Linked DNA regions of Homo sapiens: region 2 is linked to region 1. Evidence: fine-mapped expression QTL. A gene starts in region 1. The other region holds a variant in brackets. All regions are shown on one strand. Distances are from middle to middle. Region 1 holds the start of DICER1 (dicer 1, ribonuclease III). Region 2 overlaps CLMN (calmin).

The links.
Region 2: its variant is fine-mapped to the expression of DICER1 in fibroblasts (GTEx, PIP above 0.99). The same link has a PIP of 0.9 or more in breast.

What each region holds. Positions count from the first base shown.
Region 1 is chr14:95,156,369-95,158,868 of GRCh38, forward strand. DICER1 (dicer 1, ribonuclease III) reads right to left here and starts at 1,161. Exons shown (of 27, transcript NM_177438.3): 1 at 862-1,161. It overlaps DICER1-AS1 (DICER1 antisense RNA 1), which reads left to right and starts at 1,320. Exons shown (of 4, transcript NR_015415.1): 1 at 1,320-1,490; 2 at 1,825-1,866. RefSeq lists silencers at 452-811, 872-1,331 and enhancers at 1,422-1,521, 1,562-1,631.
Region 2 is chr14:95,190,895-95,193,394 of GRCh38, forward strand. It overlaps CLMN (calmin), which reads right to left. Exons shown (of 13, transcript NM_024734.4): 13 at 1-838. The coding sequence ends at 670. Among named protein-coding and RNA genes, the nearest start is that of DICER1-AS1, 34 kb to the left of the region's middle. The variant T/C (reference allele first, on the strand shown) is at 1,071.

The DNA of each region.
Region 1 (2,500 bases):
GTCCCTTTAACCACAACTCTCTCCACAAAAGCACGGAGTTAACACTACACAAATAGGACCCTCCAACTCATCTCCACGTTTCCGCGGATCTTCAGGTTCCTAAGGACACACTCAGTGGTTTGCTGGCTCTGACCTCCAGGCAGAGCCATCAGGGCAACTCAGCTTTTCTGGACAATCTACAGAAATCTGATGTGCTAACTTAAAACATACACTGATTTCCCCAAAATCAAAAACCCTGAAGAAAGGGTCCTCCGCAGGGTCTAGGCATTTTGGCACAAAAACATCTGAGGGGAGAGGCAAAAGAATGGCCTCGGCCCCTGCCCGCCCCCCAGGGCCCCAATCTGGTCCCCTGACAGTAATCACACAGGACCCTCCCGGGAGGGACCGAGAGCCCAGCTTCGTCCCCTCCGGGCGCGGCACAGCGGCCCCATCAGAGGAGGGCCCCAGGGTGCTCCGGCAGGTCAGGCGCGCGTCTCCACCTCCGCTGCTCCCGCGCCACCTTAGCGCGCGTGACGGGACCTGTCAAGAGCCCCAGGCCTCGCCAGGCCGGGGAGTGGACAGGCGCCGGCATCCCCCACCACGCCACGGCGGCCCGGAAAGTCTCCCAGGGCTGCCTCGCGGGGAGGCGCCGGGGTCCGGGCCCAGGAGCAGAGCCGAGGCGGGCAGACGCCGGGTCCACAGGCCGCGCTGTGCGGGACGACGAGGCAGGCGAGGCCGCGCCCTTCGTCAGCGCCCGCCAGGCCCGGACGCGCGGCTCGGGGCCATGGCCGGCACGCGGGCCTCCGCGCGGAGGCGGGAGCGCGGCCAGGCGACCCGCTCCCCGCCCCGGACACAAAGCTGCTCCGCGGGAGCCCGCCTCACCTGCAGCACGGGGCGCCGCGGGCCTTCGAGAACCATCGGACCCCGCTCCGGCGCGCGCGTCACAGCCCAGGCCTCCCGGAGCCGCCCGGCGCCGCCGCCCCCGCCGCCATTTCCTCGCGCTCGCCGTCGCCTCGTCCCCGCTGTCAGGTTACTCCATTCACCTGGGCCTGCAGCAGCCTGCGCCGCGCCTCCGCCTCGACCCCTCCCGCCGGCGCCTGCGGAGACTGCGCAGCGCCCGGCTGGCCGGCAGCCAGCGCACGGCCCGCGGCAACGGCGCACAGCCGCTTGGAGAATCCCACTGGCTCCCGCACCGCCCCTCCGCGCCCCCACGCTCCGCTCGCCCCGTGGCGGCATGAGAGCGAGCCTGTGATTGGACAGGGCCTGGCGGTGAAAGGTTAATCCCGGCCCCCCAGCCACTCAGGAGCAGGGAGACAGCGGGCGCGCGCGCGGAGGCCGGAGAGGCGTTTGCGGCCCAGCGCCTGGACTGGACCTTGGCGTTGGGCCGCAGTTGCCCGGAGTTTTTGGGGCCCCCGGGAACCCGCGCGCCGAGGCCGGCTAAGTTTGGCAGACTCTCTGAGCTCTCGGAATTCGACTGCCTCCATTGTTGCTCCTTCTGGCACCCACAGACCGTAACGTGGCCGTAATTGTTTCCCGGAGAGCTTAGCTTCCCTCTGAGCACCTCCCTCCCCTTTTTAAAGTACCTTCCCACTCGCCTGCGTTTCCTCGCGTTAGTGGTGCAGGGGCCTCCGCATTTGGGGAAATAACAAACACCCACTTCCGCCCCCCACCCCAACCGGGATCCCCAGATAATGAGAAATAGATGGTGGCCCTCTGTTTGTAAGCTGTTCATTTGCATAGGTCGGAACCGCGCACCACAGCTTGAAGCTAGGAATTAAAATATCGGTGGGAATTAAATAAGTGGCTGGCTTAAAGAACATCTTCTTAATTTATCCCCAAATGTAGACATCTCTTCAGTGGACCCCCTGATAGGCCGGTTTGCTCCAGGTGAGGTGTGCTCACAGCAACTGCAACCGTGTTTCTTTCAGACCATGGGCGTGAGCAGAACCTACTATGCGCCCCTGCTGCCTGGGCTGTGCTGTTCAGTTTGGGGCCACCAGCCCCACATGGCTCCTGAGCACTTAAAGTATGGCTAGTCGGAATCGAGATATATGCATTCTTTACCAAATAATGTTCAAAAAATTGTTACATGTTGAAGTGATAAACTTTTTCCATATATTGGGATAAAAGTTTTATTTGTTTATTTTTTAGTGTGGGTTCTACAGAATTTTAAATGTCACCTGTGGCCTGCATTATATTGCCATTGGGCAGGCTGATCTAGGGCTTGCATGCCTGTGATCCTTAGGTGCACCCTGTGAGGTAGGTGCTTTAACTGTGTGCACCCTGTGAGGTAGGTGCTTTAACTGTGTGCACATTGTGAGGTAGGTGCTGAAACTGCTTCCTGTTTTTTTTTTTTTTTTCTTTTGAGACGGAGTCTCACTCTGTCTCCAGGCTGGAGTGCAGTGGTGCGACCTGGGCTTACTGCAATCTCCGCCTCCCAGGTTCAAGTGATTCTCCTGCCTCAGCCTCCCGAGTAGCTGGGATTACAGGGGCACGCCACCACACCCAGCTAATTTTTGTA
Region 2 (2,500 bases), 35 kb after region 1:
AAAACAAAACAAAAAAACAACAAAAAAAACAGGGTGAAAAAGAGCACACAGTGGCTCTCAACACAGCTTTCACCTTCCTCCCTGGATTCTGCCATTCCTGGATGTGCTTACACAGAGCTGGCTGCTCGGATTTCCCCTAGTGAATGCAACCAGTTACCGGACTGCGACAGGTGCATGGACCCCAGCACCTTCTCTCAAACACCCACGCTTGGAGGAAAACGTGGCAGCTCTCTCCCCAGCTGGGGCTTGGCCTGGGGTGCCCACCCTCTTTCTCATTAAGCAGCCCTTCATCTGAGAGGTAAGAAACTCAAGTTCATCCAGCGTGTGAACCTGCAATGTGGGGTGTGCTAAGATCCAGGCGGGCTAATGATCACTAACAATGCTCCCTATCCAACCCAGCAAGGCACACAAGGACAAAACCCCACCTACGGATCCAGCTGCATGCCTGAGTTTTGAGTACACAGCCAAAGAAAAAAGCATGCTCAGGTTGTCCAGAAAAAAAAGGAAACCTGAAAAAAAAAAAAAAACCACAATAGCGAGAAAGGGGGTCTAAGTTTCCTCGGAGGTCCTCAACTGTCTGTAGAAGTGCCCCACCCAGAACCCAAAATAAAATGAAGTAACCCCGCCCCTGGTCAGGGTCCTGTCTTTTTTATTATCCAGACACACGTATCAGAGCCTGCTAACATCCAGTTGTGGGAAGAGCAGCAAGCAGTACACCAGGAGCCACAGGAAGAGAATAAAATACATCATATCCGGCTGCTGGACAAGCTGTGTCAGGGAGTCACTCTGCGGGCTGTGGCTCCCCAGTGACATGGCTTCTCCTGAGCTGTTGGCCTTCCTACAGAAGAAACACAGAGGAAACGCAGTTACCAAGCAGGTTCCCAGGAAAGTGGACCCCACCCAGTGCTACCCGTCTCTCCCCGGCCCCCACTCCCCGCCTGAAGACCCGAAGGCTCCCCAGCACCATGTCCAGGTAGGCCCCACACTGTGTGTACTGGCCCAAGGCAGTGCGTCGGGCCATCCAGGCAGCCCCTCGAGCTTTTGCACGTACTCCGTTCATCTCCATAACA[T/C]CAGGTGAGAGGAGGTGGCAGCCCCATTCTGCAGATGGACACACTGAGGCTTTCGGGGTGGAGTGACTTGCCCAAGGCCATGCAATTAACTTGGCGACAGAGAGGGCGCCTAGGCCAGGTCTCCTGGGACACCTTTCTTGATGCCACAGTGCTCTCAGAGAGTGACACGGAGTTAGATACTGATCGCTTGCTGCTGTTTGTTAGTAACGCAGGGGACCCCATAGGTCATCTAAGGGATGAAGTGTCCCTAATAGCAGATCATTTTAAATCATCTATCAGAAAGAAACAAAGACCTCTCCCATTCCCCACAGTTTTGTTTTGGCTTTGGAATATTACCTTTAAAATAATTACTAGATTTGATTTCAGTCAGATTTACCTTCCTGCTTTTATTTTATAGGTGGTAGTGTTAAAATGTCATTTCAGTTTTGCCTGGCGGATCATAGGGAAGCCCAGAAGGTTTTGCCTGGGGCTGGGGCCTCTGCTTGGAGCTGCATGTAGAGAAGCCTGCAGTGTAAGCCTCTTAGGGTGGTTTCGTGCGGTGTAATGGAGATTACGAGAGGCTAAAACCACTTGTCCCAGAACTATCTCCTGATAGCAGGAGCGAGGGGCAGGGTGGGATTAAACATCTGCCACAGTCTACATACTGAATGATAAATACCCACATGATGGTCTTCTTTAAAAAGCTGTCCACAGAAACAAGTTAAACTATATACTTTTTATAGAGACACGGTCTCTCTGTGTTGCCCAGGCTAGTCTCAAACTCCTGGCCTCAAGCAGTCCTCCCTCCTTGGCCTCCCAAAGTGCTGGGATTACAGGCGTGAGCCACCATGCGCAGCCTAAACCATATTTTTTATTATAAAGGTAATAAATGCTCAATGTAGACAACTGAAAACACGACTGCATTTCTCAACTTTACAGGTTCTATTTTCAACGCCTCTATCTCATAAGAGCAAAAAGGATTATTTTCCTATGAGCATATCCAGCCTGGTGGAAAACTTGAATTAGTATTTCCATTTCATGGCAGGGGAAAGGAGCTGTCTTGCTTCTTTTTTAGCAGCCAGAGGGATGGGGTTCTAATGACCACACTCTTGGGTGTTGGGTAATATTCAGACAGAGGCTTCCGATTCCAGTAATCTAAATCCTTCCAAGCCAATTCAAATCTGTGGCGAGTAAATAAAATTTTTTAAAAATAAAAACATAATAAAGCAACTCTATGACTTCAACAGGAATGGGGACGTCTCAGAATTGTAAGAATTTGAGACGTTTTTCTGGTTTCCTATGTTTTAAATGGGCAGGTTTCCAGCAATTCAGCAACATTAGGCCAGGCCAACAGTTCTCCGACAGCAAGAAATACTTTCATAGACATCCTGGCATGTTTGCTTTCCCTCTTCATGTCTGCTCTGATGCCATAAAACTGTAAAATCAGCTCA